Linked DNA regions of Homo sapiens. The protein of the gene in region 2 purifies or fractionates together with the protein of the main gene of each other region. This does not show direct contact. Each region holds a gene or a part of one and is shown on either strand. Other genes may lie near its edges. The genes, in order: ARIH1 and ZNF35.

Region 1 (7,308 bases), on a different chromosome or scaffold from region 2:
TCTTTCTTCCTTGCAAGGTAGCAACTAAATAACTGAACAGAAGTGGAATTAGCCAATAGAATAAATGGCTGAATTCCTTCTCTATGTATGCTTCACCAATACTATTACCTGCAATTTAGTGCCCAACGGACAGAAGCAATCTGTGAGAAACATGGCAAAAGCTCAGTTGCTGGATATGCTAAACCCAGTTTCACTATCACTGAACTTTACCAGTAAGGATCATCACTGGCAGAAAGTTTTATTCAACAGCTTAAAAAAAAATTACCTGTACTTGTCTTGTACTTTCTGCTTTATATCCTGCAGAGAATCTTGGGAAATATCTCGTTCAAGGTAGCCCGAGAGCACCTCTGTGGCATTCTCTAGATCTGCTTGGTTATTCTGTAAGAAGAATGAAAGTAAATTTTGGCTTCAAAATAAAGCTAAAAGATAAACCATTTTCACTGTTTTGTTGACTACAGACTGCTCTCAACACTCATTCTGTAACTTTCATAGGTGGTTTAACTGCACCTGTAAAGCTCTATGGGCTTTCATCTCTAATAACTTGTTTGTTCTTTTCCAGAACAATTTTTTAAATGTTAAAAGAACGAAAGATTTCACCCATTACTTTTGGAAGAATACTGAAGACCATTTGAAAGGATTTAAAATGTCTTTTGGAATCTTCTCGTTCTGAGAGCTGCTCTTTGCTGAAAACTCAAAGGTAAATGAGAAAAAATAGAAACCTATTATTGCTTACATCTGGCTATACTTATTTCTTATAAGAAAACACTGTATGGAAGATTCAAATTGTATCATCCTTTACCACTATGGCTAGTTTTGTACCTGTTACCCAACTGAAGTCCCATCTGCTAGTCAGTCTTATTGTCTAGTCATATACAGATATCAATGTTTTATGCATCAATTTTAAATGAACATCTTTACTTGAGAAAACCTTTACTGCTAAAAGCTGGCTTTTTAGTCATTATTTCTCCACTAAAGATAACCACCACATTAACTTCTAATATTGCAGGGTTAGTTTAGCCTGAATAAAGGCTTTTATTGAGAACTTATGATGTTCCAGGTGCCGTATAGCAATTAACACAAATTGTCTCACATAAAACACAAATTGTCTCACTTAAACCTCATAACAACCTAGAAAGGTACTATCCTCACTTTAAAATGGACAAATAAGAGGTTAAGGAATTTGCTCCAAATCAACAGAGCTAAAACATAATGAAGTAAAGATTAAAATCTAGGGCTGACTCCAGAACCTGCATACCTAATCACTAGCTGGCTAAACCACATCGATCTGAATATAATTTAGGACAAGAAATAGAAATTTCTTGTATCTTTGTAATAAATACATTCGTCTACCTACATGTTCTGAACAAACAAGAACCCTGAAAACTCTGTATCTTATATATGAAAGATCAGGTAGACCTATGATACAAGGTGGGCTTTTTCCTCACCCAGAACTACTCCTACCTCAAAGATAATGGACTGGTTATTCTTTTTGAGGTAGAAAGCGAAGACATAAGTGTACATGAGTGTGGCACGACACTGGCAGAGGACATCAACTGCCTTCTTCAGGAACTGCACCTCAATCCAGGACATGTTGTGCTGCTGCATCTCCTCCATTTTCTGTTTCACCTGAGCATATAGTTTGTGCTCAAAGCGCAGGCTCTGCATGTGGTTCATATAGCGATTACAGTAGAACAGGTACCTCTGCAGGGCTGCCCTAGATCGCTGTCCCATTAAGAAAAATTGGGTGATATAATTATAACACATAAACTGTACATAAAAGCTGATTATCAAATTAAAACCATAATGAAGTCTCACTTCACACCTGTTAGAATGGTTTTTATCAAAAAGATGAAAGATAAGTCTTGGCAAAGATAAAGAAAGAAGGAGACTCTTGATACACTGTTGATGGGAATGTAAATTAGTATAGCCATTATGGAAAATGGTATGGGGAGGTTCCTTAAAAAACTGAAAACAAAACCACCACAGAATCCAGCAATCCCACTACTGTGTATATATGAAAAGGAATTGAAATCAGTATGTCAAAGGTATCTCTGTACTCTCACATTCACTACAGCATTATTCACAATAGCCAAGACATGGAATCCATGTAAAGTGTCCATCAATGGATGAACACAGAAAGAAAACGTCATGTATGTACACACACACACGAGTACTCAGCCTCAAAAAAGGAATTCTGTTGTGACAACATGGATGAACCTGGAGGACATTACACTAAGTGAAATAAGCCAGGCACAGAAAAGAAATACTACATGATCTCGCTTATATGTAGAAACTAAAAAAGTTGAACTCACAGACATACAGAGTATAATGACGGTTACCAGAGGCTTGCGGGGATAGAGGGGTAGGAAGGGAGGGAATGGGGAGTTGGTGACCAAAGAGTACAAAGTTTCAGATAGACTGGATGAGTAAGTTTTGAGATTTATTGCACAACAGGGTGAATATAGTCAATAATAATATATATTTCAAAATAAGTATCATTTCAAATGTCTCACCATAAAAATGTTAAGGCAAGGCAATACAACAATTAGTTTGATTTAATCATTGCATTGTTTACATATTTCAAAACATTCCACTGTACTCCATAAATGTGTATAATTATGATTTGTCCATTAAAAATATTAATAATTTAAAAAGCTGATTTACTGATGAAACAGTACTGTGATCTAGGCTAAAATCAGGAATAGACATCTACTGCTACTTTTGTTATTTAATACTCTTGAAAAATGTCCTATTAATTGTACTTTCCAATACAGTAGCCACAAGCCACACCTGACTACTTAAAATTCAATTTAAGAAACTAAAAATTCAGTTCCTCATCGCTCAATAGTCACATGTGCTTAGTGACTACCAAATTAGACACTGGTGATAAAGAACATTTACATCATTACAAAAATGTTCTACTGGATGGCACTGTTCTACAGTATGCCACAAGATGTAAAACAAGCAAAAAGCAGAGATATTTTTAAGTAGAAAACTACAGTGGCAACTACATACCATGTAACTCCTGATATAATACAATAGAAAGTATAATCAATTAAGTATTCTGGGCTCCCCCCCCAACCACTGAATCTGAATTTGATCAAGTTTCTTGAATTAATCACCAGTGCAGAAAATGCAGGGATAGAAGAACCTATTAAATGACACCATGCAGTTGCAACCAGCAAAATCCATAATGTGGGAAACTCTACAGGACAACACGATCTAGTTTCTTCAACAAAGAAAAAAAAGCAAGGAGGGGGGAAGAGAAGGAACAACAGGTAGAGGAGACTCAAGAGATATCAATTAAATCCAATTTGTGGACCTATGTGGATCCCAATTTGAACCAACTATAAAAGAAAATTTAAGATAGGCTGGGTGTGGTGGCTCATGCCTGTAATCCTAGCACTTTGGGAGGCTGAGGCGGGTGGATTGCCTGAGCTCAGGAGTTTGAGCCAGCCTGGGCAACACAGTGAAACCCTGTATCTACTAAAATACAAAAAATTAGCTGGGCGTGGTGGCATGTGCCTGTAATCCCATCTACTTGGGAGGCTGAGGCAGGAGAATTGCCGAGTTGCACCACTGCACTCCAGCCTTGGGGAGAGAACGAGACTCTACCTCTGAAAAAAAAAAACAAAACACCAAAAAACAAAAAAAAGCAAAATTTAAGATAATTGGGGATATTTGAACAATAGATAGTTGATACCAACAGAGTATTGCTTTAAAACATATACAGTTGACCCTTGAACAACACAGGATTAAACTGTAAGTCTACTTTATATGTGGATTTTTTTCAATAAATATATTGAAATATTTTTTGGAGGTTTGCCAACAATTTGAAAACACTTGCGGACAAACCAAAATTAAGAAAAAGAGTTGTCATGAATGCATAAGACATATGTAGCCTATCTTATGATTTACTACGATAAAATATACATAAATCTATTAATAAAAAGTTGAGATTTATCAAAACTTATGCACACAAACTCTTACAGACCGTATATGGTACCATTCACATTGAGAGAAATGTAAACAAACGTAAAGATGCACACGGTACTCTGGAAGGGACTGTCAATGCTATCGAAGAGAACCCCCACAGAACATCATGGAAGTCTGGAAGGAGAGCACCACTGAAGATGTCATCGTTGTTATAGAAAAAACCATGGCATCATCAAGACTGAAACAATAAACTCCTGGTAGAGAAAACTGTGTCCAGATGTTGCGCGTGACTTCGCAGTATCTACAACAGAGCCCATCAAGGAAATCACGAAAGAGACTGTGGATATGGCAAAGAAAACGTGGAAGGTGAAGGGTTAGCTAACAGACACCACACCAGAGGAATTAAAAGACCACTTGATGGAGATGAGCTGCTTCCAAACCAGTGCCAGATGATGAGGAAGAAGACACTAAAGAAGCAGTGCCAGAAAATAAATTGACATTAGACAATTTGGCAGAAGGGTTCTGATTACTTAAGACTGCTTTGGACTTCCTTTATGAATGGACCCTTCTATTATACCAGCACTGAAACTAAAGCAAATGGAAAGAGGATTGTTACTATACAGAAACATTTTTAGAGAAATGAAAATGCAAAACGGTTCGTAAGGTTTTCCTGTAAAGTTACACCAAGTGTGCCTGCATCTCCTGAATCCCATTCGACTTCCTCTACCTCTGCCACCTGAGATATAGCAAAACCAAGCCCTCCTGTATTTTCTTTCCTCCTCAGCCTACTCAACTTGAAGACCTTTATGATGATCCGTTTTTTTGTTTGTTTGTTTTTTGTTTTGAGATGGAGTCTCACTCTGTCGCACAGGCTAGAGTGCAATGGTGCGATCTCGGCTCTCCACGACCTCCACCTCCAGGGTTCAAGTGATTCTCCTGCCTTATCTTCCCAAGTAGCTCGGATTACAGGCGCCTGCTACCACGCCCAGCTAATTTTTGTATTTTTAGTAGAGATAGGGTTTCACCATGTTGGCCAGGCTGGTCTCAAACTCCCAACCTCAGGCAATCTGCCCACCTCAGCTTCCCAAAGTGCTGAGATTACAGGCGTGAGCCACTGGGCCCGGCTGATCCACTTCTACTTAATAAAAAGTAAACACATTTTCTCTTCTTCACAATTTTTTAAAATAACTTTTTTCCTAGCATACTTCATTGTTAAGAACACAGTATATGCCAGGCACAGTGAGTGGCTCACGCCTGTAATCCCAGCATTATGGGAGGCTGAGGTGGGTGGATCACCTGAGGTCAGGAGTTCAAGACCAGCCTGACCAACATGATGAAATCCCGTCTCTACTAAAAATACAAAAAAATTAGCCAGGCATGGTGGCGCATGTCTGTAATCCCAACTACTTGGGAGGCTGAGGCAGGAGAATCGCTTGAATTCGGGAGGTGGAGGTTGCAGGGAGCTGAGACCTGCCACTGGCACTCCAGCCTGAGTAACAAGAGCAAACTCCGTCTCAAAAAAAGAAAAAAAAAAAAGCACACAGTATAATAAAACATGTAACATACAAAATATGTGTTAATTGACTATGTTATCGGTAAGGCTTCTGGTCATCAGTAGGCTATTAAAACAGGTAAGTTTTGGGAAAATCAAAAGTGGTATGTGGATTTTCCATTGCGGAGGTAGGGCGGGTTAGTGTCCCTAACCCCTGAATTGTTCAAGAGTCAACTGTAATGGTATTACAGTTATGTAAAGAGAGTCTGTCTTTAGAGATATGTAAAGTATATTGTTATCAAAGCAACAATGTATCTAGTTTAGATTTGTTTTGTATTATTACATTATAATATATAATTATTCATATGAGGCCTCTACCATTATACCATAAATCTCTAGAGGGAATGGACTTTTAAAAAGATAAAGTATTTCCAATACCTGATTTGCAGAAAACCATTAATAAATGCTTACTAAATGCAACCACTATCAAAGGGTTTTTTTTTTTTTTTTTTTTTTTTTGAGACAGAGTCTTGCTCTGTCACCCAGGCTGGAGTGCAGTGGCACAATCTCGGCTCACCACAAGCTCCACCTCCCGGGTTCATGCCATTCTCCTGCCTCAGCCTCTGGAGTAGGTGGGACTACAGGTGCCCGCCACCACGCCCAGCTAATTTTTTTGTATTTTTAGTAGAGATGGGGTTTCACTGTGTTAGCCAGGATGGTCTCCATCTCCTGACCTTGTGATCCGCCCGCCTCGGCCTCCCAAAGTGCTGGGATTACAGGCATGAGCCACCGCGCCCGGCCCCTATCAAAGGGGTTCCTAACACACGTATGTTCTTTTCCTTTATCCTTACCTCCTCTTTCTCTCCCCATGTTTTAAAGCCTACATAACAGATACTACTTGGCCCTATGGTTGGTCCCTTGCTTAGAAATACTAATTCTGAGCCACATAATTAGCTAACCACATGATCCAGCATTATACAACGAAACACTTCAAAAAACCAACACAAGTTGGGCGCGGTGGTGCACACCTCAAGCTGCCTCTAGTTCCAGCTAATGCAGAGGTTGAGGCAGGAGGACCACTTGGGCCCAGGAGTTCAAGGCTACAGTGAGCTATGATCATGCCACTGCGAGACCCTCATCTCAATGAAAAAACAACAAAACCACAGCCATGTTATTTCAAGAGTCAGGTAAGTATCAAACCAATGCTTATGAACAGGAAAATTATGCCAATCTGAAAATATGTGGAAAATCTGCTTGGCATTTTATCTTCCCCTAAAGTACTAATATTTCCAAGCCTGTCAAGTTCCCCAAATGAAATGAAAACCCTCCCTTACCATATTGACATGTATGATGTTATGGGACTTGACTTAATCTAAGAATTCTGAAACTGCTTCTCACTAAAATTCAACATGAAAAAAGAACACCCATACCATCACTGCTAATAAGACTTTTTTTTTTTTTTTTTTTTTTTTTGGAGACAGGGTCTTGCTCTGTTGCTTGAGCTAGAGTGCAGTGGCACAACCATGGCTCACTGAAGTCTTCCCAGGCTCAAGTGATCCTCCCACCTCAGCCAGCGTGCACTACCATACCTGGCTAATTTTTAATAAATTTTTTGTAGAGACAGGGTCTCAGTTGTTGCCCAGTCTGATCTCAAACTCCCGCACTCAATCCTCTCGCCTCAGCATCCCAAAGTGCTAGGATTGCAGGCGTGAGCCACTGAGCCTGATCAAGACAAATTCTCCAATCAAATGCCAGAATCTGGAATGAGAAATGTAATCAGCGACCTGAAAGCAGTTTGGGGAGCGTGGAAAAGACAACAAACTTGACTGCTTAGAACAGGGGTATACAAACTCTGGCCTGCATGACAAATCCAGCTGCCA
Region 2 (2,868 bases):
CAGCATTTATGATAAATGCTCTTGCATGCCCTGAGGCATTGGAACAGCATGGAGGGACAGAGCCAGAAATCAGGAGACCCAAATTCTAGTCTTAGGTTTGCTGATTTCTGGTCACAGTGCCTAAGGCACACTCCAAACATCTGTCACATCAGCTTCCTCACCTGAAAAATGGGACTACACACCCCTTTCTTTGTCTCCCCTACAGGTCTGCATGGGGATTACAGGTGTTTGGCAAGTGGCATGGCAGAACAGAGAATCTAGATTCAGGACCTGGACTTGGATATAAGCTGTCACTTGTTACTTGGCCTTGCACTAAATGACCATTCTCAGGTAAATGGGCAACCACCTGTTTCAGTGTTGTAAGGACTGAGGTAGGTGATCTATGTGAAAGCGTGAGATACGTGCCAGGTATCATGATCAATACATAAGGGTACACAACAAAGAATAAAAGTTCTATATAAATACAAGGCAATATTATTACATAACTCTACCTATTGCATAGTTTTATAAATCATTTTTCCAGGAGTAAAGGCTGAATGGTAACAAAGATATCTTACCTTGGCCAGTTTCTTCATCCTTCTAAAAGTTTTTCATATTCCAATACCTCTGAATTTCTCAAAAAATCAAATTAAGACCTTAGGAATCTTATTTCCACCTCCCCTCTCCCATCACTTTCCCTCTTTGGTCTTCTCAGAATGAGAAGAGCTCCACTATTTCTTCTAAACACCATCCAGAATGTGAGAATGAAACCCAAACTGAGACCCCTGGCTGGACTTGAGCAGAATGACAGCAGAGACAACTGGGGCATGCCTCTAGGCAAGCTTTATTCTTTGACTCCTTCATCCAGGAAGGGGCTGTTAGTTGCATCTCACCCAAATGGAATGCGATGGGAATTGGGGGCTTGAGTTGTTTGGAGAAGGAGCTGTTGATCTTGGCAAATGAATATAGCTGGTGTGTGGTGTCCATCAATCCTTGAGTGCTTGGCCATGGAGACTAGGGAATGGTCAGAACAGACCCAGAGGTCCCCAGATCTTTACAATACCAAGGTTCAGGAGGTATAGACAGTAAGGAAAAAGTCCATTTCCTATTTCTGTCCATTTTCAGTAAAGTTTTTGTTTTGACTGGCTTTTAAAAAATTACCTAGGAAATGGAAAGCTTATAAACATTCGTAAGTGAATTGTTGAACTGCTACCCCAAGTGGTTTCCTTACCCAGTCACCACTTAACCAGAAATATTAGAATACACGGTTCAACCAGAATTCAACCAGGCAGATAACCTGCCTGTTGCTCAAGCAATCATCAGAGTTTTAAAAAACAAAATTAAGCAAAAAAGACCTTTCCCCAAATAGCATCATTACCACTTAGCTTTGTACGACCCATTCCTAGGAAAGCCACATTCCACTTCAGAGAACATGACCGCTTAAGGTACAGTTAAAACAAAGTCCTTGCCTTTAGGTGCTTACTTTTTGTTTTAAATTAGCCTCTGAAATGCTTTTCTTGTGTCTTCTGCTGCATTCCTGAAAACTATAACTTTTAAGGACACAGCCCTCACTTTTATAGAGGAGGAAGAAAACAGCAAAGAGGTGTCTCATTAGGGAGGCAGAAGGTTATGACCAATGCTGGAGGTCTTCCTCTTCCTTACTTGTTATTCAACAAGATGGGTTCTATGGTGTCGCATGAGGTGTGAGTTGGAAATGAAAGCTGCACCACACTTCTCACATTCATAGGGCTTCTCCCCAGTGTGGGTTCTCTGGTGCACGGTGAGGCTCGACCTCTGTCTGAAGGCCTTCCCACACTCATTACATGTGTAAGGTTTTTCTCCATTATGAATTCTCTGATGAATAAGTAGGTATGAGCTACATGTGAAGGCCTTCCCACATTCATTACACACGTAAGGAAGATCTCCACTGTGAATTCTCTGGTGGACAATAAGGCAAGAGAGCTGACTGAAGGCTTTCCCACATTCGCTGCAGTCGTAAGGTTTCTCTGCAGTGTGAATTCTCTGGTGCACAATAAGGTGTGAAAAACAACTAAAGGCTTTCCCACACTCTTTACACTCATATGGCTTCTCACCAGTATGGCTTCGCTGATGTACAATAAGATTTGCACTCTGGGTAAAGGCTTTGCCACAGTCGTTACAGGCAAAGGGCTTCTCCCCAGTGTGGATCCTCTGGTGGACAATGAGGTTTGAGCTCCTAGTAAATGTTTTCCCACATTCATTACATTCATAGCATTTTTCCGTAATGTGGACTTTCTGGTGCCGAGCAAGTTGTGAGCTGTAACTAAAGGCTTTCTCACATTCATTGCACTTAAAAGTTTTTTCTAAGGAGTGGATTTTTTGATGTACAGTCAGATTTGAACTCTGAGTGAAGGCTTTCCCACATTTTGAGCAAACATAAGGTTTCTGTCCAGTGTGGATTCTCTGATGCACAACGAGGTTTGCACTCTGAATGAAGGCCTTCCCACACTCATGACATTCAAAGGGTTTCTCTCCAGTGTGGATTCGCTGATGCACAACGAGGTTTGCACTCTGACTAAATCCTTTCCCACACACGCTACACGTAAAAGGCTTTTGTCCAAGCTGGGTTTTTGGATTTTTAACAGCGCCAGAATTAAGGCTATATTTTCCTCCAGATTTCTTACATTTCTGGTTTTCCTCTTCTTTGAAGCTTTCAGGTAAGTGACAGTCATTCACTATCACTTGTCTGAAATCTTTCTTTTCTCTCTTTATTCTCTGCCTCTTTAACATGTTTCCCTTTTCACAAGCTTCTCCTAACTCAGGTCCTTGAGGATCAGCTTTCTGGATTCTTTCTGATATGATGAGGGGTTTTTCAGCTTCCTCACATATCTCAGTTTTTGGAACCAGTAA

What was found.
Region 1: the proteins of ZNF35 (region 2) and ARIH1 purify together in Homo sapiens (affinity purification with mass spectrometry; 2 studies listed by BioGRID and IntAct, with this or other methods). This does not show direct contact.

The regions. Positions count from the first base shown.
Region 1 is NC_000015.10:72,575,145-72,582,452, reverse strand, and holds part of ARIH1 (E3 ubiquitin-protein ligase ARIH1), read right to left. Parts: intron 1,723-7,308; coding exon 1,462-1,722; intron 379-1,461; coding exon 266-378; intron 1-265. UniProt on the Homo sapiens protein: E3 ubiquitin-protein ligase, which catalyzes ubiquitination of target proteins together with ubiquitin-conjugating enzyme E2 UBE2L3.
Region 2 is NC_000003.12:44,658,724-44,661,591, reverse strand, and holds the end of ZNF35 (zinc finger protein 35), read right to left. Parts: coding exon 1,645-2,868; 3' UTR 801-1,644; downstream 1-800. UniProt on the Homo sapiens protein: May be involved in transcriptional regulation. Involved in cell differentiation and/or proliferation.